Linked DNA regions of Homo sapiens. The protein of the gene in region 5 purifies or fractionates together with the protein of the main gene of each other region. This does not show direct contact. Each region holds a gene or a part of one and is shown on either strand. Other genes may lie near its edges.

Evidence for each region.
Region 1: the proteins of SPNS1 (region 5) and SDK2 purify together in Homo sapiens (affinity purification with mass spectrometry; one large-scale study listed by BioGRID and IntAct). This does not show direct contact.
Region 2: the proteins of SPNS1 (region 5) and JAM3 purify together in Homo sapiens (affinity purification with mass spectrometry; one large-scale study listed by BioGRID and IntAct). This does not show direct contact.
Region 3: the proteins of SPNS1 (region 5) and AASS purify together in Homo sapiens (affinity purification with mass spectrometry; one large-scale study listed by BioGRID and IntAct). This does not show direct contact.
Region 4: the proteins of SPNS1 (region 5) and POLD3 purify together in Homo sapiens (tandem affinity purification; one large-scale study listed by IntAct). This does not show direct contact.
Region 6: the proteins of SPNS1 (region 5) and SUCLA2 purify together in Homo sapiens (affinity purification with mass spectrometry; one large-scale study listed by BioGRID and IntAct). This does not show direct contact.
Region 7: the proteins of SPNS1 (region 5) and NPTN fractionate together in Homo sapiens (co-fractionation; one large-scale study listed by BioGRID). This does not show direct contact.

The regions. Positions count from the first base shown.
Region 1 is NC_000017.11:73,637,578-73,641,728, reverse strand, and holds part of SDK2 (protein sidekick-2 precursor), read left to right. Parts: intron 1-4,151.
Region 2 is NC_000011.10:134,071,729-134,075,879, reverse strand, and holds part of JAM3 (junctional adhesion molecule C isoform 1 precursor), read right to left. Parts: intron 1-4,151. UniProt on the Homo sapiens protein: Junctional adhesion protein that mediates heterotypic cell-cell interactions with its cognate receptor JAM2 to regulate different cellular processes. Plays a role in homing and mobilization of hematopoietic stem and progenitor cells within the bone marrow.
Region 3 is NC_000007.14:122,134,005-122,138,155, forward strand, and holds part of AASS (alpha-aminoadipic semialdehyde synthase, mitochondrial), read right to left. Parts: intron 1-4,151. UniProt on the Homo sapiens protein: Bifunctional enzyme that catalyzes the first two steps in lysine degradation.
Region 4 is NC_000011.10:74,595,253-74,599,403, reverse strand, and holds part of POLD3 (DNA polymerase delta subunit 3), read right to left. Parts: intron 1-4,151. UniProt on the Homo sapiens protein: Accessory component of both the DNA polymerase delta complex and the DNA polymerase zeta complex.
Region 5 is NC_000016.10:28,973,085-28,977,741, forward strand, and holds the start of SPNS1 (protein spinster homolog 1), read left to right. Parts: upstream 1-1,693; 5' UTR 1,694-1,695; coding exon of another isoform or gene 1,696-1,779; 5' UTR 1,780-2,016; coding exon of another isoform or gene 2,017-2,067; coding exon 2,068-2,308; intron 2,309-2,407; coding exon 2,408-2,473; intron 2,474-4,657. UniProt on the Homo sapiens protein: Plays a critical role in the phospholipid salvage pathway from lysosomes to the cytosol.
Region 6 is NC_000013.11:47,987,246-47,991,396, forward strand, and holds part of SUCLA2 (succinate--CoA ligase [ADP-forming] subunit beta, mitochondrial precursor), read right to left. Parts: intron 1,737-4,151; coding exon 1,637-1,736; intron 1,459-1,636; coding exon 1,296-1,458; intron 1-1,295. UniProt on the Homo sapiens protein: ATP-specific succinyl-CoA synthetase functions in the citric acid cycle (TCA), coupling the hydrolysis of succinyl-CoA to the synthesis of ATP and thus represents the only step of substrate-level phosphorylation in the TCA.
Region 7 is NC_000015.10:73,626,642-73,630,792, forward strand, and holds part of NPTN (neuroplastin isoform b precursor), read right to left. Parts: intron 1-4,151. UniProt on the Homo sapiens protein: Probable homophilic and heterophilic cell adhesion molecule involved in long term potentiation at hippocampal excitatory synapses through activation of p38MAPK. May also regulate neurite outgrowth by activating the FGFR1 signaling pathway.

The DNA.
Region 1 (4,151 bases), on a different chromosome or scaffold from region 5:
CTGAGCCCACAAGCCTGCTTCTCCAGGCATGGCACAGAACGAGGGACGAAACAATTGTTCCTCCCTTGAGACAAACTTCACATCGACCACTGTCACCAGATTTTATCTGAGCCTAGCCTGGTTGGTTTTTTTTGGGGATGGGGGGTGGGTGCTGGACCTGAGCGACATCACCTGGGTATACTGAAAGCTAACATTTGACCATTGGCCGTATGCCCGATGGGTCACATGATGCAAACTCATTTCCCAAGCAAAGTGCAGTGAGGTTGTAGAAAGAGCATTGGCTTTGGCAGCAGAAAGAACGGGCTCTCATGATCTGGCTTTGCCGCTTCGCTGAAGAGAGGCCTTCTGCAAGGCTCTTAGCCACTAAGAGCCTCAGTTTCCTCATCTGTACACTGGCAATAATAGCTCTTGCCTTGTAGAATTGCTAGGAGAATTCAAGATATTCCAGGGGCAGGGCCCCAGCCAGTGCCTGGCACATAGAAGGTACTTAATACATGGCAATTATTATTCTTGTTATGACGGTTTTAACATTAAGCTAGAAGTCCATGAAGAATGGTACCCTGCCACCCACCAATAAGACCTTGAATTCTTTTTCCTTACCCAGGAGGTTTCTTTAAATTCCTTCCATGGCCACATCACTGTGTCTCAAAGAGTGGCCCTCAAGCACTTAGCTCCCAGGGAGTTGTAGCAATGCAGATTCTTGGGCTCCGCTCCCAGACACTGATTGGAAAGGTCTGGGTGAGCCTGGAAGTCTTTTAACTAGAGTCTCGAGAGATTTCCCATGTGCTTGGAAGCTTGATTACTGCTGGAGGTCATCCTGGCCAGCCTGAGAGGTTGGGAGAAGGGCAGGAGCAGCCGAGCCAGCTGCTCCAGAAGTTTCTTTCAAGAGAATCATGCCTGGGGGGAGAACAGAAGGAAGGGAATCTGAGCCGAGAGAACAAGGCAGTGGGGACAACCCTGAAAGAGGACTGGAACCCCCAGCTCTAGAGGCTCCTGAAAGGCTCCAAAGGGAGAAAGTTTAGTGCTGGGAGCTAATCACAATAAAAGCCAACAGTACACAAGGGAGCGGGATGAAAGTTTAATTACATGGTGTGGCTAAGCTGTAATTATTAATTACTGACAGCAAAAAATAACTTATTGATCAGGGCCTTTCGCTAATTACCAGGAGGCCGAGTGTCGTGCTTGCCTGGGGCTCAGCTGTCAAAAGCCCCACTCGAGAGTGGAATGGGGGTGTCCCTGCTCTCCCATGCCCCTCTTTCCCTCACCCTTTGTACCCCTTGGCTTCCGCGGGGGAGTCCGGAACATTCTGGCAGTGGTTAGATGAGGGATACAGCTTGGTGCTTCCACTGGCTGCAGAAAATGGCCCCTGCCTGGGAGGAACAGAGTCAGGACCCCCACCCAGAGGCTACATCCCGCTGGCAGCCTGACACCTGCCTCGGAAATCCCACCCTCGACCCCCCCACACACACACCCCACCCCCGCTTCATGCATTTGTTCGGCAAATATTTATCGACTGCCTCTTCCTCGTGTCCTCTACTGGAAGGCCGGCATAGGGGCCAGGAACCTTGTTCTACAAGGGAAAGGAGGCTGGGAAGGAGGCCAAATTCTTTACAGCGATCCTCTGTTTAAACAGCGCCTGAATGGCTGACTTTAAAATGAAGTGTTAACCTGCATATTGGTCCACATTTGACTTTGTACCACAGGACGCAGTCGGGCTGTAAGCTAACAAGGAGGGGAGAATGGGCTTATCTTCTGTCCTAAGGACTAATGGGAATCATTGCATTTGACTTGAAAGACACACGAAAAGTCATCTAGGACCGTCGTCTGCCCACAAGGCCATCTGGTCTCTGCTTGCATACCCTTGATGATGGAGGACTCACTACTGCTCAACACCAGCTGGCTGTTAGCTATGTTTTATGCTGATGAAGAAATTGTCCCCTTATAGCTGGTTTTCCTAGGATCTGGCTGTGGTTGAAGGGGTCCTCTGATTGGCTGGAACCCTCTCCCTGTCCCTACGGACTCCCAGCCCCTCTGGGAGGCAGGAGGCTGAGTTGGAATTGATGTCGGGTGTTAGTGTGCGCCCTGCGGGGTTTCTACCCCGCTCCCCCTGGAGCATGTTGCCACAGACAGCCCTGGAGCTGCCTAAAGCGGTGGGAATTAGTCATCATAATTTGGGGCCTTGGGATGCCAATAGCAACAAATGGGCCAGCAGCAACTGGCGGCTGCAGCCCACTGCCTGTAATGGAAAGGAAAACAAGCTGGTTGCCGAGACACCCCGGGTGCCCCCTCCCCTAGGTGTCCCACCCCTGCTGTCCATGTGCTGGGCAGGAGGCAGAGCCAGTGAGCAGCGTTGAGCAGGGATGCTCAGCATCCCCGGGGGAAGGGAGAGAGGGGACTGCAGGGCTTGTCCCCTCAGACTCCCTGGGCCTGGTGCCTGGACCAAAAAGCCTCTTGCTGAGCCCAGGGAGCCCTGGGGAGACCCTTCTCCTGCAGACGTGGTGAATGGCTCCCAGCGTGGCTTCTGCCCCTTTGAATCCTGCCTCCATCACTGGGCGATGCTGAGCTGAGCCAGTTTTCTCATCTGTAAAATGAGTAAAGTTAAAAATAGTTGTGTCTACCAGCCAGGCACAGTGGCTCACGCCTGTAATCCCAGCACTTTGGGAGGCCGAGGCCGGCAGATCACTTGAGGTCAGGAGTTCGAGACCAGCCTGGCCAACGTGGGGAAACCCCATCTCTATTAAAAATGAAAAAATTAGCCAGGCGTGGTAGTGGGAGCCTATAGTCCAAACTACTTGGGAGACTGAGGCAGGAGAATCTCTTGAACCTGGGAGGCGGAGGTGGCAGTGAGCTGAGATCGTGCCACTGTACTCCAGCCTACACAACAGAGCGAGACCCTGTCTCATTAAAAAAAAAAAAAAAAAAGACTGTTATCTACCTTTTAGAGTTGTCTTGGATAATCAAATGAGATTGTCCAGATCACTTTGAAAATGCCCTTTGTAAATGTTAAGTTCTTATAATGTGTCCATTACAGTCCAGGAGGGTGTCCTGATCACTGCCCCTCTACTCCCCAGACATGAACCTCCCCTCCCACCTCATCTCCTCACTCCCCCTGCATTCACTCCTGTCCCCACACTGACTGCCTGTTGTTCCTGGAATTTACCAGGCCTCCAACCTGGCACTTGAAGTTCCTGCCTTTCCATCAGTGGTGCCCACACCACCCAGATGTCTACAAAGTTCACCCTTGTTTCCTCCAGGACTTCCTCCTAATATGTCTTATCCATCTCGGAGCACCCTATAACGTGGCATCTTCCAGCACCCACTCCCTCGCTCTCCATCATTTTCTCCATTGCACTCAGCTCCAGCTGACATATATTGACTTGTTTGTTTATTATTGGTGTCTCTGGAGGGCAGGGGCTTTGTTTCATTCACTGGTATATTTCTAGCCACTAGGGCAGTGCCTGGCACGTAGGAGGAGTCAGCATAATATGAAGACTGAATGAATGAATGAATGCTTACTGGAGGCATACAGCCCACGGTCATCTGGCCCCTCCCAGCTCTCCAGCTTCCTGCCAGGCCTCTCGCCCCATCTCCAGAGCTGATTGACTTGTGAAATGCCTCTCGTCTCTGTACATCCAGCACACCCCATGCCATGTAGCCCTCAGCGCACTGAGCAGCCAGGTACCTCAAGAGTGGGGGCCCCGCCCTCCAGCAGCTCCCGCAGATGCATCCATGGAATGGGGTAGTGTTGCCATTGAGACAGGAGTCCCTGCTCAGATTTTCTGGTCATTTTCCCAGCTCTTCCTGATTCTGGCCCGACAGATGAATCTGCCTCTTAGCAGGCCTGGCATCTGGGTTGGGCAGCCCCTGGGTCTCTGCTGAAGCCCCATCAGCTGAACTCCAACTTTATGATGTGAAGGAAATTGAGAGGAGGGGTAGAAGGTTTAGGGGGTAATGCCATTCATACATGGATGTACCATTTGAAATACACAAGGTCCTTGATTAATGCTCCAGAGGAAAAGGGAGAGGAAGATCTTGCCTCAGCACTTATATTCCCCTCCAGGCGCGGTGGCTCATGCCTGTAATCCCAGCACTTTGGGAGGCCGAGGCAGGCAGGCTGAGGTCAGGAGTTTGAGACCAGCTTGGCCAACATG
Region 2 (4,151 bases), on a different chromosome or scaffold from region 5:
ATGTTTAATTGCAGTCACAGAAAGAAAAAGTTAAGCAGGTACAAGCTAGGTGATATTTGAATGGATAAGAACTGAGAATTCTCAAGAAAGAAAGAAACTCACAGGTATACAAACCACAACATATAACAAGTAGAATAACTGAAAAGAAATTCAGGGAGGGCATGGTGGTGTATGCCCATAATCTCAGCACTTTGGGAGGCTAAGGCAGTAGGATCCCTTAAACTCAGGAGTTCAAGATCAGACTGGGGAACATAGTAAGACCTTGTTTCTACAAAAAAATGTTCAAAAAATTACCCAGGTGAGGCTCCAGAGCCCGTGAAACAAATGTCTTATTTATGCCACCCTGTTTGTGGTATTCTGTCATAGAAGCCCAAGCTCACTAAGACCCCAGATAGAGCAATAAGCACAATGCTTATCACATAGTTTTCAGTAATTGGCAGGTGTTATTAATCATTATAACTCACTCATCCCAAAACAAAACATGTGCATTCCCAAGTCCATGCCTTTGCCCACATTATTTCCTCCACTTTCCCATCCACACCGCTGTCCCTCCCAAATCTATACTTAAGTCAGTCAATTATCTGTACAAGTCCAGCTCCTTTTTGAAATTCTCCTCTACCAGGTCAGCCCAGAGAGAGTAAGTGCTCTCACTTCTAAACCCACAGAATATTTACCCAAATGCTGCTCTGTTATTTGACTAAACTATATGTTCCCTCTGGTAAAGGGAAGACATTATCTTAAGTTCTCCTGCTTTGCCCATGGAATGCTTTACTGCCATGAAAATGGAGACTACCAAATAAATATGGATTGGCTGATTAAGTTTCAGTACCCTGACAGAGATGCTTTAAAGGAAAAACATGCCCCACCCCTGCCAAAAAAAAAAAAAAAAAAAGCAGCTGTCTTTGGATTTGTTGCATTGTCTCTAAGCTTCCAGGCAGCTGCACTTCATTCTAAAGACATTAAATATTTTCCTTAGAGAAAGACATCCAACAGGGAAGTCCATGTTGGGCAGGAAGAAGTGATGGGGCACATCAGCTGACAGAGTGCTTCGGGAAACATCTTTCAGAGTCTAGTTTCAACAGAAGTCAATTTCACCCTGTATTTTTATCACTCAAGAGGAAGAAAACAGAGATCTTCCAGGGGCTGCCACAGAGTAGGTGCTCAATAAATTTTGGCTCGCTTTGAACAGGTGAACAAAGGCCATTACTCAGATCGTTTTGTCAGTGTGTTCAAAAAGAAGGGGGGAGGCCGGTAATCTCGGCAGCTCTCAGTTTTCCAGCTAACCATTTGCTGAGGACACCACAGCTGACTCCCCCACCCAAAAGTCAGTGGCAACTAATCTCTCAAATGAGTCACAAACAATACATTATCAAGCAACTGAACTTCCAGTCAGCCACTCCTTCATCCAATGTGGCTGATATTAAGAAGCTAGAAAAAGGCACAATCCACATGCTATCACATTAAACAAACAAATTATATTTTCCCATTACTAGTGCCAAATTTAAAATTCCACTATTGTATCTACTGGAAGCCAAACCAAGATGCAACTTTTTTCATTACACAAAAAATATCCTCATCAAAGAACATTTGGAAAACAGACAAAGGAATACAAGAATCAACCAGGAAAACAAAAACAAAGAAAAGCAGAAAACAATTTGCTGTAACACTTCCACTCATAAACAGCCCCTATCAACAGTCTGGTTCATTCTCATCCTGTTTTTTCCCCTAAGCATAGATGTTTTGTGTAATCGTAATCATACAGTATATACTAGTATACCTGCAGCTTGTGTCACTTAAATGATATCATAAGCATTTCTCCATCTTTTTCTCCTTCTTAACCTTGTAACTGCACAAAAGCAGATGGCAGAAAGATTCTGAAATTAAACCAAGTCAATAAATTATTACCATTCTCTTTCTTCCAGAATAACTACTGTAGTACAAACTGACACTTTTCCAGAAGTTCCTAGGGCCACTAGAAATAAGACATTTTTTTAAAAATGCCTCGACACAAAGAGAGTGTTTAAGAAATGTTAACTCACTTTCAAGTGACAAAGTGAGATAAACTGAATATTTACTAGAATCACCTCTGGAAAGATACAAAAAAATTAAATTCAGCCTCTGTTACCAACAAAATGTTTATTATCATTGAGAAAATACAATGCACTGACACCTAACAACTAAAGCCCAATGTAAATCGGAGTCAATTACCCTGGCTCTTTAAGGACTGGCGATGTTTTACCCATTTTGCAACCCTAGCACACAGAACAGTGCCTGACACGTCATAGATACTCAATAAATGGGTGTTGTACTAAACTGAACTAGAGACTATGATCTAAGCTTATTTAGAGATAGGAAGGATCACTGTGGGCTGAGGTTGTCAAACATAGCAGATAGCATGACTATGGCAGAATTTGATTTTGGCAATAATTTTCAGGAAGAAGGCTGAACCATAGAAACCTTGGGAAACTGCAAATGAAAGATAATGTAAGAAAAAATGTTCATATAGTCCTAACTCTATTAAATAGTTTGATGTCTTTATACAAGCAGCACTGAAACCTCTGCTGTATGTATTAACTACTCATGGGAAATGTAATATATAACACATAACAAATACTACTTAAAACCAAAAGAAACACACCAACACAAAACACTACAGCATTCCTGGGACATCAGAAACAAGGGCTAACTCTCAGGAAGCTTTCTGTGTGCCATGCCAAGAAGCAGAGAGACAGTCAATTAAGGCTTTAGCTCTCCATATAGAGTACCACAGTGGATACTGTCCTTGCTAAACTAGGTGTAAAAGAATGTGCTTACCAAAACTTTCTTTCGGGATCGCTTTACACTCCAGTGAAGCTATTTGCATATACTGCTAGAATTCTGAGAGTACATGCAAAGATCTGAAATTTGCATTCAACTTTGACAGCATAACATTCACACCACCTGACTATAAACATCTTTTTTTTTCCCCCAAGACGGAGTTTCACTCTTGTACCCCAGGCAAGAGTGCAGTGGCGCAATCTCAGCTCACTGCAACCTCCACCTCCCGGGTTCAAGCGATTCTCCTGCCTCAGCCTCCAGAGTAGCTGGGACTACAGGCAAGCACCAGCACGCCCGGCTAATTTTTGTATTTTTAGTAGAGACAGGGCTTCATCATGTTGGCCAAGATGTTCTTGATCTCCTGATCTTGTGATCCGCCCACCTCGGCTTCCCAAAGTGCTGGCGTGAGCCACTGTACCCGGCCAACTATAAACATATCTTAAAAGAGAATCCAGCTGGGCGTGGTGGCTCACGCCTGTAATCTCAGCACTTTGGTAGGCCAAGGCGGGCAGGTCACTTGAGGTCAGGAGTTCAAGACCAGCCTGGCCAACATGGTGAAACCCCATGTCTACTAAAAACAATAAAAAAATTAGTCAGGCAAGGTGGCACGCATCTGTAATCTCAGCTACTCGGGAGGCTGAGGCAGGAGAATGGCTTTAACCTGGGAGGCGGAGTTTTGCAGTGAGTTTTGCAGTGAGCTGAGCTCATGCCACTGCATCAGAAACTCAGTCTCAAAAAAAAAAAAAAATCCAACTTCACCACTAGGGTATTCTTCAGCAGACTCCATACATCCTAACTTCATTCACACATATTTTCCTTTCTTTTACTACATTTGTGCTTTTAAAAAATTCAAAGAATTTATGGAGAAGGAATTTGCTAATACCACATCTCTAACAGCTGCTAGTCGAATGTACTAAATCCATAGCTGCGTCTGTTACATTATGTGGCCATCTTATACTTGAGGAAAGTCTGGTTGCTTTCAAAAGAACTGATTTAAACCCACCCCATGGAGTTTAAGAACAAGTTCCATGGAGCTTAGGGGTTGTGTGGATAATTCTGCCTGAATGTAATACTGCAATTACTTATGATTAAGTATCTCTAGTACTTATCCATTCAGTCTCCTTAGCCTGAAGCACTGAAGAACAAATGCCCATCAACAAGTCATGTGGGAATGAGCAGCTGATATAAAGTACTGCATGCTTTCAAGACAGGTGTTCTTTGTTTTTTTTAAAACATACACACAAGTCTGACAATGATTATATCTGCCAGATAATTAAGAATTAGAACATAAAAGAATATGCCATTCTAAAAAACGTTACTGGAGTCCAAACAGA
Region 3 (4,151 bases), on a different chromosome or scaffold from region 5:
TTTAAATACACATTTTATCAAACATCTATTCGGCACAAAAGTTTTAAACAAATTAATCTACAATGCAAATCCAGGAAAATAATAAAGAGCAAGACTTTCAGATTGGTCTAAATTTTGATGGCGTAAAGTTTGAAATCCTTATAATGGTATACAAGATTCTTCACAATTTAGTGCCAACCTCTTTCCAGTTCATCTCTGACCATTCCCAAAACAAGTGTTTCTCAGTGTGCCCTAGTGTCAGTCAGTGAACTGCACTGAACTGTTTTTTTAAAACAAAAAACAAAAAACAAAAAAACTGGTTCACAATTAGATGTGTACATAAATAGAAAGTAAGCATTTAGAAGCCTTAATATCACATGATCATATTTATTTATTTATTTTTAGACATGAAGTCTCACTCTGTCAATGCTAAAATGCAGTGGTGAGATCATTGCTTACTGCAGTCTGGGCTCAAGTGATCCTCCAGCCTCAGCCTCCCTAGTAGCTAGGACTACAGGTGCACAACCACCCACCTGGCTAAGTTCTTTTTTTTAATTTATAACAAATTACTGGGATTACAGGGGTGATCCACCATGTCAAGCCACAAGATCATTTTTTCTAGTAATTTATTGTTACCGGATTTTACAAAAGTATTGGTCCTCAACAGATTGGAAATTTAAGAAAACCAATCAACCTGTGTAAACTAGTTCAACCATTGTGGAAGACAATGTGGCGATTCCTCAAGGATCTAGAACTAGAAATACCATTTGACCCAGCCATCTCATTACTGGTATATACCCAAAGGATTAGAAATCATGCTGCTATAAAGACACATGCACATGTATATTTATTGTGGCACTATTCACAATAGCAAAGACTTGGAACCAACCCAAATGTCCATCAGTGATAGACTGGATTAAGAAAATGTGGCACATATACACCATGGAATACTATGCAGCCATAAAAAAGGATGAGTTCATGTCCTTTGTAGGGACATGGATGAAGCTGGAAACCATCATTCTGAGCAAACTATCACAAGGACAGAACACCAAACACCTTATGTTCTCACTCACAGGTGGGAATTGAACAATGGGAACACTTGGACACAGGGTGGGGAACATCACACACTGGGGCCTGTCATGGGGTGCGGGGAGGGGTGAGGGATAGCATTAGGAGATACACCTAATGTAAATGACGAGTTAACGGGTGCAGCACACCAACATGGCACATGTATACATCTGTAACAAACCTGCACGTCGTGCACATGTACCCTAGAACTTAAAGTATTAAAAAAAAAAAAAGAAAACCAATCGACCAAACAAACCTATTCTTTAACCAGAGGTGTTAGAAGATTAAGAAGCAGAGTTAAATCACTCTGCTTCCTAGAGTCCAGCTCACCTTCACTGTTCACCTTTGTTGCTCTAAACATGCCAGTTCCTCTTCCTGGGTTTTCTCTCCATACATGGCCGTCTGCTGTTGTATTAAACCCCGACCTGCCTCAACCAGTTTTCCAACTGCTATTCAAGTGAGAAGATTGTGTAATTCCACTCATTCAGTCAATCAAGAAATAGTTACTAAAGGCTTACTATGATGAATGTAACGGGCTTCTCTCAATGTGGCAGGCAAGGTATATTCTCATGAATAAACTCTACTCAAAGCAGCATTCTCTTGGTACAAGAAGTGTCTTGTCCCCCTAGTCCCAGAACCAGGGCTGCATATGAAGGAGAGAATGATTGAAAGATATCATCTACTAAAAGTAGTTATTTTTTCCCTCAGCTGGAGGAAGCGTAGAATACGGTGGAAATAATACTTTAAACCAAATTAAAGAAATTAAAGTGACACTAGTAAACATTTTATTTTCACCCAGATGCTCCTAATTTTTATATACAGGTTCATTTATTCCTATGCAGAATAAATCTTATGTAAATTTTTAAAGCATAAATATCCAGGCTTAACAGTATTCTACCCAACTTCAATTGGATTCTATCCAACTTCAATTTTGTAGCCAAATGTCATTTCAGATGATGATTTGCTGGATCATTTGAATGATAAAACTTAGTTTTCCATGTAAACTTGGCAGCAAAATATAAGGATTCAATGATTTTTATACCTTCCAGAAATTTTCTACCCATCACCGCTAACAACATATAGAAAAGCTTGCATGAAACACATTTATTTTACATCAGACTGCAATCTTGGAAGAGCACCAGCTTGATGGATGGGGAAGGCTTGACCAAACAATTAAGCATACAAGTACATTTCCTGGGGGCAAACAACTACTTGCTACCTAGACAGTAAATTTATAGGACACTTTACAACAGAATCAGACAACAGACCAAACAGCGAAGAGTCCAGCTAAGAAGGCTTTAGGAAGATGGCCAAGAAGAAAAAAAGCTGCACACAGCAAGAGAAACTGCTGATGATTAGGAGTTTAGGCTTTTATTCAGGGCAAAATATGCATGCAAAATAGATTATCAACATTTCAGTAAACGACTGTTATATACTGCATCTATTTTTTGTTTATTCATATCTTCTGTTTTTTAAAATAGATTGCATTAAACTCAATCCCAAACCCATAACATTCAGTCTTCTCGAAGCCAAAAGAAAAACTAGAACCTGAATCCCTCAGTTTCTAATAAAACCAATTCCAAAGATAGTGATTCCTTTGAACATACACAAATGTCCAGAAACCATCCCATCTTCCCAGCAGGGGCTGTGTTTCATGAATTCACAGGTGACTACATACCCCTGTAACTTTTATTATGAGTTGAAATTCTTGACTCCATCAGGAGGAACATGTGGAGATAATTTAATCCCTCCCCTCTAGCCCAAGCTTGAATGTTAACCTCACTCATCCCTCACTCAGTAATAATCCCTGCTCCTTCTCCCACCACCTTCTTTGTCTGGGATAGGGCGGGAAAGCAGTAGACACACACACAGACACAAATACAGACAGTCACTTGTAACATACACACATATACTTGCAAAGGCCAACTATCTTGGAAGACTAGGGAAAAAGACAGAAGTGCCTGGGACTGAGCTTCAGTTTATTTGGGAAGCTACTTTCACTTTCACTTTTTGCATGGAAGGCTTAAATAATAATTTCTGTAACTTTCATTATTTAAACAAATGTAACAGTAGTTACCATTGATTAAGCATCACATGCCAAGCTCTATGCTGAGCACTTTATGGATATCATCTTATTTCCTCCTTGCAAAAATCTTATTAAGTAGATACATATCCCCATTTTATAGATGAAGAAACTGAACTGGAATCATATAGGATCTGTTGCTTTTAAGCAGAAGCAGGATTCCTAGTTTAATGTTTAACACCTGGAATTTTCTCTTCTTTGCCAAAGCCTACAGATTCACACCATATAGATCCAACACATGCTGTTAACTCCAGCCAACTCTTGTTTCAGAAAGAAATCAGATCCATATGGCTTTGCCTTCAACAGTCACAGTGAATTAACAGTTCTCCCCGTAGCATGCCGTGCCTCTCTTGACCCCTTTTCCTGCTTTATACTGAAAATCATTCCTGAGTACCTGCCAAGATAAATTCTAGATTTCTGGGTGCTTAGAAAAAAAATGGTTTGATTATAGTATAACTGCTAGTTACTGCTTGAACCTTAAAACTTGGTCTCAGCATAGAACTTTCAAGATCCACAGTTCATTTGCTTCTAAGGTCTTCAAGAAATAGGAAATAGTGAGAATTTCTGAATTGCACTGCAGGTGTCTAGTATTTCATGGAAATGCCAACGGAGGCTGCTTTAGCTTTTTCTGTCCTGGATTTTGTGGTATTTTTCAAGAATATCAGGAAGTAAATTCAATGTATATTTCTGGAATGCCTTCAATGAAGGAAGGAGGGAAGATCAGGGTTTACTCACCACCAGCTCTAGTGAGGTTACCCGACAATGTCGGGTGCTGATAACAGCTTGTAACACAAGCAAGGAGGATGTAGAAAAGCAGGAGGCAGAGAGGGGGAAAAAAAGAGCTAGAAAGAACAAAGAGGAGGAAAATAGAGAAAGAGAAGTGTCACACAGGCAAGGGTGGGGTACAAGACCCTTCCTCTGATGAATTGTAACAGTCTTCCCTTTGTTACATGAAGGTTAACATTTCAAATATAAAAATGAAACTTAAAAGATTTCTTCTCTGTTTTTGTAAAACAGAACA
Region 4 (4,151 bases), on a different chromosome or scaffold from region 5:
ACAGAGCGAGACTCCGTCAAAAAAAAAAAAAAAAATTACTTGAGAGAAATGTTTGTGAAAATACTATAGTGAGGCCGAGCATGGTGGCTCATGCCTATAATCTCAGCACTTTGGGAGGCTGAGGCAGGAGGACTGCTTGAGTCCAGACGTTCAAGACCAGCCTGGTCAACACAGCAAGATCCCAACTCTACGAAATAAAAAAATCAGCTAGCATGGTGGCATGTACCTGTGGTCCCAGCTACTCTCAGGAGACTGAGGTGGGAGTATCCCTTAAGCCTAGGAGGTCATGGCTAAAGGAAGCCATGTTTGAACTACTGCACTCCAGCCTGGGTGATACAGTGAGACTCTATCTCAAAACAAACATAAACCATAGTGCTTGGTATTCATTCAGTATGTATTGGCATTCATTATGTGCCTGACACTGAAGACAGAATAATTGTGGCATGTTATATTTTCCAAAGATGGCTGAGACAGCATCTTCCATTCCATATGCTCTTCTACATTCTCTCATTGAGAAGTAGAGCCCACTTCTTGAATCTGGTATGACCAGTTATTCACTGCTTGACTTCTGAGGCTAGTCAGAAAAGGCAATTGGCTCTACATTGTGCTGGAACACAAGCTTTTGGAGCCCTGAGCTTCTATGTAAGAAGTCCGACTACCTGGAGACACCAGGCTGTGAGAAAGCCCAGGCCATACAGATAGACCACATGCAAGCACTCTAGTCCACTGCCCCAGCTAAAGGCCCAACAGATGGCCAGAATCAACAGCCAGACATGTGCATAAAGATGCCTAGAGATGACCAGGTTCCAGTTATTGAGACTTTCCAGCGGGGATGCCAGACATCATGGAACAGACATAAGCCATTCCCACTGTGCCCTATCCAAATTCCAAAGCAAAAGAATCTATGCGCATAATAAAATGATGTTTCCAGGCACTACATTTTGGGGTGATTTCTGACACAGCAATAGTAATCAGAACAGTGATGAACCTGACAAGTTTCCTGCCTTCATAGAGTTTATATTCTAGTGGGGAAAGACATATAATTAGCAAGAAAATGCCAAGACAATAATATGAATTATAAAATGCTGGGATAACCGTATACCCATGTGCAAAAAAATGATGCTGGACCCTTTCCTTACACCATACACAAAAAATCAACTCCAAGTGATTCCTAGAAGATATAGTCAATATTTATACATTTCAGTGATTCATTTAAAAATTAGCTTGAACTAACACCTAATCTGAAAGCTTTAGTATAGTCTTACTGTAGGAACTAAAGCATTTTTTTCTTTTTCTTTCTTTCCTCCCTTTTTTCTCTCTCCTCTCTTTCTCTTTTAGAGATAGGTTCTTGCTCTGTCACCCAGGTGTGATCATAGCTCACTGCAGCCTTGAACTCCCGGGCTCAGACAATTCTCCTGCCTCAGCCTTCTGAGTAGCTAAGACTGCAGGTGCATGCCACCACACCAGGCTCATGTTTTAAAAAAACTTTTTATAAAGATGTGGGTCTCACTATGTTGCCCAGGCTTGTCTTGAACTCCTGGGCTCAAGCAATCCTCCTACCTCAGCCTCCTCAAGTGTTGGGACTAATACAACTGAGCCACCACAGCCACCCGACTGAAGCATTTCTAATGTTAACAAGTACATGGCCAGGTGCAGTGGCTTATGCCTGCAATCCCAGCACTTTGGAGGACAAGGCAGGAGGATGGCTTCAGCCTGGGAGTTCGAGACCAGCCTGCACAACACAGCAAAACCCCGTCTCTACAAAAAATACAAAAAGTAACCAAGTGTGGTGGCATGCGCCTGTAGTTCCAGCTAGTCGGGAGGCTGAGGAGGGAGAATCACTTGAGCCTGGGAGGCTGAAGTTGCAGTGAGCCAAAATTGCGCCACTGCATTTCCATCTGGGCAACAGGGTGAAACCCTGTCTCAAAACAATAATAATAATGATGCTAACAAGCACACGATCTGTAGAAAACTTAAACATAGTGATAACCATGATTTTTTTAAACTCTAAGTGGATTACAGAATTAAATATAAGTGCAAAAACTAAAAAATCTTAGAAAAAAGCACAGGAGTAAATCTTCATAACCCTGGGTTAGGCAAAGCCTTCTTAGATATTATGTCAGAAGCACAAGCAACACATCAAAAAGAAAACACAACAAGGGTATGGAGAAAACAGAATGCTTATACATTGTTGGTGGGAATGTAAATTAATACAGCCATTATGTAAAACGGTATGGAGGTTCCTCAAAATATCAAAAATAGAGCTACTGTATGATCCAGCAGTCCCACTACGGATATACATCCAAAGGAAATGAAATCAGTATGTCAGAGATATTTGCACTCACATGTTTATTGCAGCACTATTTACAACAGCCAAGATATGGAATCAATAAATGTCCATTAATGGATAAAGGAAATATAGTGTATATACACAATGGAATACTATTCAGCCATAAAAATGAATAAAATCCTATCATTTGCAACAAAATGGATGAACCTGGAAGAGACTATGTTAACTGAAATAAGCCAGACACAGACAAATACTACATGATCTCACTCATTTGTGGAATCTGTAAAAGGTGATCTCACGGAAGTGGAAAGCAGAATTTTCTTTCCATAGGCTGAAGTGGTTAGGGGAGGGGGAATGGGGAGATGTGGGTCTAAAGGATACATAATTACAGTTAGACAGGAATAAGTTCAAGAGCTCTACTGTATAGCATGGTGACTACAGTTAGTGATGATATATTCTTGAAAAATGAAAAGATGGTAGACATTAAATGTTTTCACCACCAAAATAACTGTGTGATGTAATACATTTATTAGCTAGATTTAACTACTCCACAGTGTATATATACTTCAAAACATAATGTTGTACACAATAAATACATACAACTTTATTTCTCAATTTAAAAAATCTTGGCTTGGCACGATGGCTCACATCTGTAATCCCAGCACTTTAGAAGGCCGAGGCGGGCAGATCACTTGAGGTCAGGAGTTCGAGACCAGCCTGGCCAGCATGGTGAAACCCCAACTCTACTAAAAATACAATAAAATTAGCCGGGTATGGTGGCACATGCCTGTAGTCCCAGCTACCTCGGAGGTTGAGGCAGTAGAATAGCTTGAACCAGGGAGGCGGAGGTTGCAGTGAGCCGAGATCACGCCGTTGGACTCCAGCCTGGGCGACAGAGCAAGGCTTCTGCCTCAAAAAAAAAAAAAAGAAAAAAAAAAATCTTCTTAGGCCGGGCACAGTGGCTTGTATCTGTAATCCCAGCATTTTGGGAGGCCAAGGTGGGAGGATCACTTGAGGTCAGGAGTTTGAGACCAGCCTGGGCAACATAGCAAGATCTCATCTCTACTAAAAAAAAAAAAAAAATAAGATTAAAAAAAATTTAATCATTTTAAAATTTAAACTTAAAAAAGCATAAGCAACAAAAGGAAAAATAAATAAATTGGACTTCATCAGCAATAAAAACTTCCATGGGCCAGGCATGGTGGCTTATGTCTGTAATCCCAGCACTTTGGGAGGCCAAGGCAGGGGCTTGAGCCTGGGAATTCAAGACCAGCCTGGGACCAGCATGGGAAACATGGCGGGACTCCATCTCTACAAAAAATTTAAAAATTAGCTGAGTGTGGTGGCACGCACCTGTAGTCCCGGCTACTCGGGAGGCTGAGGTGGGAAAATCACCTGAGCCCAGGGAAGTCAAGGCTGCAGTGGGCTGAGATCACACCACTGCACTCCAGCTTGGGCAACAGAGTGACATCCTGTCTCAAACAACAACAACAACAAAAAATGTCTGTGCTTCAAAGCACACCATCAAGAAAGTACAAAGACAATCCACAGAATGGGAGAAAATTTTTGCAAATAATTTTTCAATCAGGGTCTTGTATTCAGAATATATAAAGAACTCTTAAAACTCAACAACAACCAAAAATACCCAATGACAAAAATGGGCATAATTTTGAATATCTATTTCTCCAAAGATATGGCCAAGCAGCATATGAAAAGATATTCAGCAACATTAGTCATTAGGAAAATGCCAATCAACATAATTTATGAGATACCACTTCACATCCACTAGGATGGTTAAAATAAGACATAATAAAAAGTTTTTGCCAGGTGTGGTGATGTACACCTGTAGAGCTAGTTGGTA
Region 5 (4,657 bases):
GAGGTGGGAGGATTGCTTGAGTTCAGGAGTTCCAGACTAGCCTGGACAACATAGCGATAACTCATCTCTACAAATATAAAAATTAAAATGACACTGGGCATGGTGGCTCACCCCTGTAATCCCAGCACGGTGGGAGGCTGAGGCGGGCAGATCACTTGAGGTCAGGAGTTCAAGACCAGCCTGGCCAACCTGCTGAAAGCCCATCTCTACCAAAAATACAAAAAATTAGCCGGGTGTGGTGGCACGTGCCTGTTATCCCAGCTACTTGGGAGGCTGAGGCACAAGAATCGCTTGGACCCCGGAAGTGGAGGTTGCAGTGAGCCGAGATCCCGCCACTACACTCCAGCTCCAGCCTGGGTGACAGAGCAAGCGTCTGTCTCCAAAAAAAGAAAGAAAGAAAAAAAAAAAGAGTTCTTTACATGGATACAAGTCCTTTGGCAGATAGATGCTTTGTAAATATTTTCATTCAACCTGTGGCTTGCCTTTTCACTTCAGAGGTGCAATTTACAATGCGTATCACTCTCTAGATAAGCTCCACGAGGGAAGGGAGTAAGTCTGCCTTTCCCTGAAACCTGGTAAAATGCCAGGCACATACATGTTCAATAATATCTTGTTGAGGGAATTAAATGCCTGCAACCTGAAGTTCCTGTCCGCCAGGGGAAACCAAGCTTAAGGTTCTGAAACACGAGGCACCTAATATGGGGGGGGGGGGGGGGTTAAAGCCAATTATGGGTATTCGGACTCGAAATAGTTTCTAACAAGGCGTTTTGGGGTTGGGGGATGCTCTCCCCACGAGATTCCAGGATTTCAGTAGAGGGCCTTTAAGGGCTGGTTGAAAGATGGGTCTTGAAGCTGTATTTGCACAGAACTATACTAATTTTACTTAGAGTGCTTTATTAGATGTAGCTTGGAGATTATAGGGTGCCACTAAAGAACCACTCCCAAGTTATCCCTTTGACCCTAGTCCTGCAGCTGGGAGTCTCCTTAGGCTAGGAGCTCCTGCCTGCCCTACAAAAGCCCACCGGAGGGCGCAAGGGCTCCAATCCCGATTGGAGTGAGGAAAAATATGCTCCAGGAGCGGCGGGTGGAGACGCTTCCTTTAATAGGTATTTAAGTGTCCACGGTGAAGGCTCAGGAGTTTACAAGGCTAGCAGGGTTGGGGAATCTCAACAAAGGGCGGGGCGTTGCTCAAGCTCCATCCGTCCGTCCGTCCATCCCTCCGTCCCTCCAATCCTCCATCCATCGCGCTGCTCAAGCTCCATCCATCCATTTATCCATCCATCCATCCATCCTTTATTGAGAGTAAAAAGCCGCCAACCAGACCCTGGGAGGAAGACAGGATGGTTCCCGAGAACTAGGGCTGCTCCTTGGCTTTTAGAGGTATCTACTACTTCCAAAACCTTTTGAGACCCCATTATCCCGTTTGATGAAGATGGAGTCTGCCACGTGGGGGTTCCAGATAAGACAGCTGAGATTCGGAAGGGCAGGCGACTCCACCTAGTCACGGGGACGCTCTTTTTGACGCTCCAGGGACCGCAGGGTCTGGGAAAGTTCCTGGTTACTCCGGCGACCGGCCGGCCGTCACATGACATGTGAGCCCGGGCGGAACGCCCAAGAGGCTTCCGTAGTCGGGTGGCAGGTCACGTGTCGAAGGCTTGCCCGCGGGGACCCCTTCCACCCTGGCTCCCGCGTCACATGACCGGCTTTAAGCAACATGGCGGCTGCCGTGGTGCAGCGCCCGGGCTGAGCGACAGCAAGTGCAGCGGGCTCCTACCCCGGGTGAGGGGTGGCCTCCGCGTGGGATCGTGCCCTCTTCAGCCCGCTCCTGTCCCCGACATCACGTGTATTCCGCACGTCCCCTCCGCGCTGTGTGTCTACTGAGACGGGGAGGCGTGACAGGGCCCGGGTCCCTTCTCAGTGGTGCTCTGTGCTTCAGGGCAAGCTCCCCGTCTCCGGGCGCACTTCCCTCGCCTGTGTTCGGTCCATCCTCCTTTCTCCAGCCTCCTCCCCTCGCAGGTGGGATCGTCGGTGGGACCGGAGCGCGGGCGGGCGCGGCCCCCCGGGACCATGGCCGGGTCCGACACCGCGCCCTTCCTCAGCCAGGCGGATGACCCGGACGACGGGCCAGTGCCTGGCACCCCGGGGTTGCCAGGGTCCACGGGGAACCCGAAGTCCGAGGAGCCCGAGGTCCCGGACCAGGAGGGGCTGCAGCGCATCACCGGCCTGTCTCCCGGCCGTTCGGCTCTCATAGTGGCGGTGCTGTGCTACATCAATCTCCTGAACTACATGGACCGCTTCACCGTGGCTGGTAGGGACTCACTTCTGGGAGGAAGATAGTCTAGGAGAGGGGAGCCAGGGTCCCGAGGGTGGCGCTGCTTTGCCGGACCATCCTGAATTTTCTCCTCAGGCGTCCTTCCCGACATCGAGCAGTTCTTCAACATCGGGGACAGTAGCTCTGGGCTCATCCAGACCGGTGAGTGGGGACCACTCCTGGTCACACAGCCGCTCCTCCTTCTGTTCTGTCTCAAGTGGGGCCACGCGCTGGCCTGTCTAGGGGCTCATTAATGGAGGTTTTGTGGCCAGTTAGGGGAGGTGATGGCCCTGATGTTGCTCGGGGGTCAGCGGGACACCACATTTAAAGAGGGAGTCAGTTTAGTATAACTAAGTATAACTTCACCCAGGTGAAGACAGACCTGGGTTTAAATCTCAGCTCTTCCACTTATTGTGTGATGGTAGGCAAGGCACTCAACCTCTCTAAGCCTCATTTTCCTTGTCTATAAGATGGAACAAGTAATAACACGAATCATCTCTTAGGACTGATGTGAAGATTAACTAAAAGATTGTCTGTGAAGGGCCTAGTGCAGTGTTTGGCACATGGTAGACACCCAGTAAATAATGGCAGGAGGGTTGGGTGTGGTGACTCACGCCTGTAGTCCCAGCACTTTGGGAGGCCAAGATGAGTGGATCACTTGAAGTTAGGAGTTCAAGACCAGCCTGGTCAACATGACGAAACCCCATCTGTACTAAAAATACAAAAATTAGCCAGGCATGGTAGCGAGCGCCTGTAATCCCAGGTACTTGGGAGGCTGAGGCATGAGAGTTACTTGAACCCGGGAGGCAGAGGTTGCAGTGAGCCGAGATCGCACCACTGCACTCCAGCCTGGGTGACAGAGCGAGACTCCATCTCATAAATAAATAAATAAGTAAAGGCAGGAGAGGGTGTCTGGAATGGGGAGAGGTGTGTTTTACTTGTTCACAACTTTGGGACTTGTGGGAGAGGCAAAGCTAGAGCCAAGCCCTTTTTCTTCCTTCCATCCTTCATTCATTTCTCAACCATTTCTGAGTACTCATTGTGTGCCAGGCCTGGAGGAAGTGATGATTACACCTGTAGGACTTTGCGAAGAACTTTTATGCCCCTTGTCTTCTAATCCTTCTATCAGTCAAAAATAGGTGTTACTGTTCCTATTTTATAGAGGAAGTAGGTAGTGATATCTACAGCTTATAAAGAAACTGAGGCTTGGAGAAGAGTTAAGACTTGCCCAGGGTCACACCACCAGTTGGAGGCGGAACAGGAATTTGAAACCAGGTCTTGCAGTGTTCTTTTCTCTACTCCAGGCCAATGAGGAACTGGAGGTATTTGAGGTGAAGTCTGGAGCAATGAGAATGGGATCATAGGGCAAGGTCTTCAAACCTCTGAAGAGTTGTTGAGTTAGAGCAGCAGCTCTTTCTAGGCAGCCGGATTTATTCACTCTCTTCACATGCTTATTGAGCACCTGTTTTGCACTAGGCTGTGTGTTAAGTAAGTGAAAGAAACACAGTCATGGCCAATACAGGCAAGGACCTTGCCTTGGGAGCTGATAGTACGCTATGCATGAGGCAGCAACAGCCAGTAAAACGCTAAACTAAAGTGGGACAGTTTTCCCATAGGGATAAGTGTTATGTAACAGAAAACAGTCCAGGCGCTGTGGCTCACACCTGTAATCCCAGCACTTTGGGAGGCCGAGGCGGGTGGATCACGAGATCAGGAGATTGAGACCATCCTGGCTAACATGGTGAAACCCCATCTCTACTAAAAATACAAAAATTAGCTGGGCGTGGTGGCACGCCCCTGTAGTCCCAGCTGCTTGGGAGGCTGAGGCAGAATTGCTTGAACCTGGGAGGCGGAGGTTGCAGTGAGCTGAGATCGCGCCACAGCACTCCAACCTGACAACAGAGCGAGACTTCGTTTAAAAAAAAAAAAAAAAAAAAAGAGAAAAAAGTAAATGTGAGAGTCAGGTACTGGATGTGTGCTCACCTGGGCAGCATGCTTCACCCTTGGCCCTGGGCAAGTATCTGAGCTGGAACCTGAAGGAACTATGCTCTGTGAAGTTTCAGGGGGAGAGGAGAGAATGTCCTTGATAGAGGAGGCAGTAGGTGCCTAAACCCCTAGTGGTATTGGCCTTGACAATTGGGCCATTGGGATGCAGACAGAGGAAGGGAAAAAGGCTGGCCATGAGTGTGGAGAGGTAGGCAGGGCCTAGATTGGACAGGGGCATTGTGAGCCATGGTATGCATGGAGTTTGGAGCTTGTTTTGGCTAGGTGGAAGGAATTGACAAGTAGTGGGACCATCCATTATACAATGGGAAATCTGGAAAGGTGTTCAAGATGGAGCTGGAC
Region 6 (4,151 bases), on a different chromosome or scaffold from region 5:
ACTACAATAAAGATGAATTACTATGGATAGAACTCCTATCTCAATTCATCCAGGTATTTATACCTTGTTTCTGGCTACTGTAACAAAAAGTAAAAACATAACTAACAAAATGACAGATGCCGATATATAATGTCAATGAAAAGAAAAATAAAATGTAGTGAAAATAAGTGAATGTGTAAAAATATAATTTATGTAAATTTTGGGTAATATATGAGGTTACTGTCATGGGATTTTTAAAATAACTTACAAACTAAATTCTATCACATAGAATATCACTTAAGAATAAAACAATGCTTCTTAATTTTATATTCTGAGTGGATTTTTACTACCATCTAGTGTTATATCTTTAGAAATACTTCCTTATAAAAATTAAAAGTTGCAAAAGACATATCATTCAAACATTAATAGATTTAATTGTAAATAAGAAAAATCACAATACAGAAAGTTGTTATTTTTAAAAAAGTTGTTCTACATAAGAAAATTATTTTCATGACTCTTAAAATTTTTGTTACTCTAAATTCTACACAATTAATGTTCTACATGAAATCCGTACTGGGGCTTTCAAATATATACCCAGTTGCTTCAAAAAACAAGCTAGTTAACACACAGATTCAGCTTGTAAAACCTAATACCCTCGAAAAACAGATAATTCTAGTATAAAATGATTATCAATGCTCTCTTCCAAACACCAGGTCTATAAAGGGATTTTCTCTTCACCAGAAGCTTTATGTTCAACATTTTAGGTTCCATAAAGAGAGGAGAGCTGTGCTAATGTAATACTCCTTAAAACCATATTGTTTGCTACTTAATGTCATCCCTCAATTTACCAAATATTGAATCATATAGTGAAACAAACCCGAAACTATTAAAAAAAAAAAAACAAACCCAAGAAGTTGAGAAAACAGAAGATGAGGCAATGGATACACATTCTTCTAGTGGGTTCAGCAACTTTCTCTTTCATTAGAATATTTTACTATGCTAGATATAATTTTCTCAATCTGGAGATGATCCAGAGATGATTTAAGCTGCTTTTAGTGAATTAACAATTTGAGAATCCCATGAAATTTATTACAGCAGAATTTTTCCTATAATTTTAAGATCATGATATTATATATCAAATTTTACGGCATTAAAGAAGCTGTTTTTTAAATGACATAAATATCATGCTCATGACATACAAACAGATTATAATTTGTACTTTTAAAATCTTTCCCACATAAATAGAAACAATAATGGACTTTTGAAATTGAATGTCATAAATTTATCCCGTATGTATCATGTCTACAATTACTCACTTGAAATGACCTTTCCATTGTTATTGCAAAGTAGTATTCTCTCCTGGGATATTTTCGCTCACAGACCAATACTTGATTGCATATTCTGCCCTTTTCTCCCGTTTGCTTGGTAAACAATTTTTTCCCAATCATTTGTGAAGAAACAGCTTTTGCTTCTTCTGGACTAAAATAAGAAAAAGAACTCAAATTTTTCTTTCCTCCAGTTGAGAAAAAGCAAATCCACATAATAGCCAAAATTTTATCTCATCTAATATTTAAATTTCAGTATTTTCATCAATTCAATAAGTAATCTTTAATCAGTCTTTAACAAGGATGATTTTTCCTTAAAAAATGTGACTTACGAGAAAACTATCTTCACTCCTCCTTTGAGGCCACTTTCAAATGTTCCTTTTCCTCTACCACCAGCTAAAACCTGTGCCTTTATCACGACATCTTTTGAACCTAGAAGAAAAACACTTCTATTAAATATGAAGCATGGAGCAGCATGCCAGACATAGTATTTTGTTATTTAACATACATATTGACAGGTGTTATTAAATCAAGTCTAATTTATTCACAATGTCCAAAAATAAGGCATTCTCTTTATGTAGATTTTCTAGATTAGAACACTAAAATAATCACTGTCTAAAAGGCCCACAATTTTCAAAATTCGTCACTTACATTAAACCATTTCTTTTTTTTTTTTTTTGAAACAGAGTCTCGCTCTGTCGCCCAGGCTGGAGTGCAGTGGCGCGATCTCGGCTCACTGTAAGCTCCGCCTCCCAGGTTCACGCCATTCTCCTGCCTCAGCCTCCCGAGTAGCTGGGACTACAGGCGCCCGCCACCATGCCTGGCTAATTTTTTTGTATTTTTAGTAGAGACAGGGTTTCACCATGTTAGCCAGGATGGTCTCGATCTCCTGACCTCATGATCTGCCCACCTCGGCCTCCCAAAGTGCTGGGATTACAGGCGTGAGCCAGTGCTGGGATTACAGGCATGAGCCACCGCACCTGGCCACATTAAACCATTTCTTAAAAGTAAACTGAAAATAATTTAACCATTTCTTGACACTTTGGAAAGTGTCATCTAGAACTCTGGAAAGTATCAAAAGTACAAAATTGAATTTCATGTCTTCCTAACACGTCCCTCCCTCTCTATTCACATGTAAACTTGCTGTCCTGAGAACATCTGAGTTATATCGCTATAGCAGGAATATGTCATGATTTGGGGGATATTACCATTACCAGTATTGATACTGATTTATACTGTCCCACTAAGAGAAAGTTCTATTAAAATACATTATTGAGCAGTACTGCATGAGTAGTACTATCAGGAGTTATTAAGGTATCTGTATCAAAAGATTTCAGAATTCTATGCTTGCAAAGCTTATGCATATTTTTAAATAAATGGACTGAATTTTTCTTCTTTAACAGGTAGACTGATTACTATTTATCCCTTTTCCTCTCCTTTCTAATTTGCTGTGGAAAACCAGCAAACTGGCTGTTTAGCCTAGATAGTACTCATCATTCATGATCAAGAGTAAATGGGCCCGGTGCGGTGGCTCACTCCTGTAATCCCAGCCCTTTGAGAGGCTGAAGCAGGCGGGTCACATGAGGCCAGGAGTTCGAGACCAGACTAGCCAATATGGTGAAATCTCATCTCTATTAAAAATACAAAAATTAGCCAGGCATGGTGGTACATGTCTGTAATCCCAGCTACTTGGGAGGTTGAGGCACAAGAATCACTTGAATCCGGGAGGCGGAGGTTGCAATGGGCCAAGATTGTGCCATTGCACTCCAGCCTGGAGGACAGAGCAAGGCTGTCTCAAAAGAGTAAATGCTCTGGGTGATGGGTATCCTAAATGCCCTGAATTGATCATTACACACTCTATGCATGTAACAAAATATAACATGTACCACAAAAATATTATGTATCAGTTAAAAAAAAAGAGTAATACCTCTTAGAAAGGCATTCTCTGTGTACCAGACAGGCAGAATTCAGAGCCTCCTCATTTTGCCTCTCATAGCATTTTGCCCACACTGGCAGGGTGGCACCAACTATACATTATGGCAAAATAACCTTTGAGATCAGGGCTAAAGGTCTCACTGTATTCATTATATCCCAAGCACAAGGAAGTCTCTGGGATATAACAACTACTCCATAAACATGGATTTGAACAGACTGAAGTAGAGTCCTCTACAACTAGGATGTCACTCCACGATGCATTTATCAAGCAGAATGAGAGGAAGCTCCCACCTAATCAGATGAACCAACCAAATCAATGAGGTAGGAAATGGAGTTTGAAACCAAACAAAAACAACCTAAAGTTTACACATTAACAATTATTTTAAAAGAACATTTAGAAAATTACTGATGTAAGCCTTCACCAGAAATACATGCTATTTAAACCAGATGATGACCCTATGCGTAGTCAGCCAAGAGAGTGTTTAAAAAACTTGTCTTTCTCAAACCCCACTTCCATTCAGCCAGGAAATCATACTGGTTCTATCTTCAAATTTATCCAGAATCTTCACCATTCCTCATCACCTGCAGTTTAGACTCTGATCCCAACCACCACTATCTCTTAACTATATGACCTTTGTCCCCCACAGAATATTCTCAAGGCAGCAGCCAAAGCAGGCACACCATTCCTCTACTTAAAACCTTGCACTGAATGCCAGTCTCACTCAGTTAAATGCCAAAGTGCTTACAATGGCCTAGAAGACCTTATAATACCCTCTACACTTTTTATCTCCTAGGCCCTCCTGGTTGCTCACTCTGTTCCAACTGCACTAATCCCCTCACTATTCCTGGGCATGTTCCTGCCTTCAGGACTTGGCTCTAATGCACCCTCTGCCTAGAATACTCTTCACCAGG
Region 7 (4,151 bases), on a different chromosome or scaffold from region 5:
TTCCTGCACATGAAATACTATGCCTTATTAGTATTCTATCAGGAAAGGATGTGACATTTCGTTATGCATTTTATATTTAATCACATTTAGTATGTGAGTATCCATTTAGATATGATTAAAACTATTGGTACGATTTGGGACTTAATGCTTTCTAATTATAGAAACTTACATAATATATCCAACCCTAATACTTTCAGAGTGATTTCATACCATCTCATTTATATTTCACTGTCTAGTAAATTTGAAGTAATACCTGGGTGACCGATGATTTTTAATAAGGCAAGAGAAGGATATCCAAATTGGCATATTTCAGCCGGGCACAGTGGCTCACACCTGTAATCACAGCACTTTGGGAGGCCGAGGTGGGCAGATCACCTAAGGTCAGGAGTTCGAGATCAGCCTGGCCAACATGGCGAAACTCCATTTCTACTAAAAATCCAAAAATTAGCTGAGTATGGTGGCTGGCGCCTGTAATCCCAGCTACTCAGGAAGCTGAGGCAGGGAGAATTGCTTGAACCCAGAAGGTGGAGGTTGCAGTGAGCTGAGATCATGCCACTGCACTCCAGCCTGGGCAACAGAGCAAGACTCCATCTTTAAAAAAAAATTGACATATTTCTGGAAAATACCATAAAGTATATCATAAAGCTCCAGTAGTTAAGATTATTTGGTAGGAAGGCTAGTCTTAAAACATTCCATAATTGTTTCAGAAATGCAAGAGAATACCATTTAGTGCTTTTTAGTACAAGAAACTCAATACAAAATGTTTCCCTCGAGCTGACTACATTCTATTTTAATGAACAGATAACACTCAGTTTATTTATTTGAAAAACAAGAAACACAACAAGAAAACAGCAGGTATCTGAGGAATATTAAATGTCTCCCCTAACTTACTGTGTGCAAGTAAATTTACATACGTAGGAAATTCTTTAAATATTTAGAAAACCCCATTTCTATACAGATAGACAAAAGTTCTGAGCAATCAGGTCAAAATAATCTCAAATTAATAAGAGTTGATTGATAAATGTTTGCCTTTGTACATACACAAAAGCAAACAAAAGTTAGGCCTACTTTCAGTTTCAGACAATATAATAAATTGAAATTAAATACAAATTTTGACTCTCCTTCCTAAACTGAATAGATCCTTAAAAAGCAGATATATTTTACTTGTGTATTCACTCTTTTAAATTTAGACATCAATATCACTAGAATAATGTTTTTACACAAGATCACTTTTAAATTCAGTAAGAAGTTTTGTTATGTATATAAGCCTAAAATATGTAACCATTTATAACCAATTAATTTTACTGGAGGGGTTTCCTGTCTTCCCGAAGTTAATCCTTACCAACTAAAATTAGGAATTTTGAAAAAAAAAATCCATAAAAATTTCACAAACAAGCTTACAAATGCATTATCTAAGGTGCTTAAAATTAAACTCCATATTATGAACAACATTTTAAAAATTTGTATAAAATGATAATGTTTTGTTTAAAGAGGCATACTGAAAGCTAAGCCAATTTTTCACAGGAGGTGATTCTCCAACATTATTTTAACTTTGATGTGTGAATTTACTTTAGAGGTCCCTGGTCTATTTACTCTTTCTGACAGCTTATATTTTTCCGGATGCTCCTCAAACAAAGATTCATTCCTCATTCTTGCATCCTGCTTTTCTCCTTGTACTACTGCAGCCTTTCTTCTGTCTTTCCCTTTCTCTTACAACTTCATTCTCTACTTCTGATCCTGTCCAGATTGTACTCTCACTGCAAACAGTAAATTGAATAGAATACATCAGAACGATTTTCATAAAATTCACTTTTCCAAAACTACTCTGCATAATTTTATTCAAACTTTTGTTGAACATCTCTTGTATGGTATCCAACATGGTCACTCACTGTTTCTCTACATACTTCATTTTAATAGATATTAGCACTTTATCTCCTTCCCGAATCGTTGTAAAAAACCTTTACACAGACCCAGCAAGTTTCAGAGTTTACACACAAAACATCTTACTTTTAAAAAGTACCTCAGACTAATGAAAAACAATGTTCAAACTGACAGAGCACTTTTCTAATTACATTTGGTCATCTTTCAAGGCCCAATTAAATCTTTTTTTAATTTAAATAATTATTTTTATTTAAACTTTATTTTAAAGTTAAAATAAAGATAATATAATGTTGCTTTTTATTAATGTCTAAAGGCATATTCCACAAAAGAAACTGTTTCACATCAAATCTGTATTAATGAGAAAAAACAATGGGATTCCCTTAAAACAGTCTAATTTCTCATAAGGATCTGTATTAATCAAGCGAAGTCAGACCTGTAATGAATTCCAACCTCACATCTAAGGGGTTTTATTTCCTTTTGTGGTTTTAAATCTTGGTATATTCACAAGTTAAGCTCTACTGCGTCTGGCAACACAAAAACCCATCTGTATCTCTTTCTAATTTGGATCCAGTAACCTTGTAAAACAAACCCAGGGAATGGGTCCTGATGTAGTAACATGGCCTATCCTCCCAGACCGAACCAATTTCTCATGCCTGGGTGCTGCATTATATCAGTAGTGACATTTTAGCCAGTAGCCTGAGAGACTGAAAGCCTGTGATCTCCTTAGGAAGGGCTTTATGTCAAGGCAAACTATTTCTTCTGGTCAAATCTTATTTGGATTATTTCAAAATTTTTTGCTTGACATTCGGCATGTCATTTGTGCCACAGCTGCCATAGATAAGATGTGTCTTCTGTTGCTCATTTCAGTTCAAAGAGGAAACACGCAATCAATTAGCAAATACACCTCTAAAAATGTACTCAGTGAGAGAAAATTGCTAAACCACTGAAGCAAACAGCCCTTGACAGAAAAGAAAAAGATCCATGAATCATCTAATGCAAATACTGGCATTATTACAAAGCACAATGTTCACAACTATCTAGTATCACCCAAACAAAATGGTTTCTAAAATTTAGGTCGTTAAAAATAAGATTCATTAGATTCCTTATTTTCCTCCATTGAACAGTGTTAATTTTGTGATGTCATATTTTCCATATGAATATATTACGTTTTTACACACCACTCCACATTCATTAATTCAGCTAACATCTATAACACTCCCACTGTGTGCCGGGTACCACACTCTATTTCTCTTATTCACAACAATAATACTCTATGAGAAAGTGATACCTGGCCCACTTGAAAGATTTGGTTCACAGAAAAAAAAGAAAAAAAAAAGCCATAAAGTCTCTCCCAGAAACTCAAATAAAAATATTAACTTCCTCACCAGAATTGGCAATTGCAGACACAGTGCAGCTGGTCACTTTTCTGAGAAAGTTACATAAGCAAAAGCACAAATCTCTATGTGGGGCCTTCAAATGGCCTATTTACCATGACAGCAGCATTAACAATCAAGTTTTCAATATACACATGAAGAAAAATAAATAAAAAATAATGCTCCTTTTTAAAGGATAGTAGTAATAGCTAACATGTACTGAGACTCAGGCTGAAATCTAAGCGGTCATTATCTCATTTAATCCTCACATCATCCCTAGGGAATGGACATGATTGTAATCTCCACTTTACAGATGATGAACTGATGAAACTGAAGTTTGCATTACTCAAGATCACTCAGCTACTGACAGCTGGAACTCAAACCTGAGTCTGTCACCGTCCAAAGCCTGCACTCTTGATCATCACATTATACTGCTTTGTTTACACTCACTCAATTGCAGTCTAATGCTTTTGAATGTCTTATAAGGTTACTTTTTAGAACAAGTTCCTCTTTAAACTACCATTTTGATGATACATATAGAAGTCAACAAATAAGGATTTTACTTGGAATTGGTCTTACAAGTTTAAATTCTTGGATGAGAAACAAAATCCATCTGAATGAAAGCCCTGAATGTCCACAACAATGGGTCAGAAACTCACTGGAGCTTCAAGAGACCTTGAGAGTCATACAGGCCAAATTCTTCATTTTAGGAATAATGAAACAAATGCCTTTTGAAAAACATCTATATTCAATCTAAACTACTACATTCCCAATTCAGAGATACTTGTGAGTTTTTTTCTCCAGTCATTTAAATAGAAAATCTAACATTTCTAACATTTCAACATCATGCACAAGCAAGGTATCCCTTTTTGAAAGCACTGTAAGAAAACACAAACT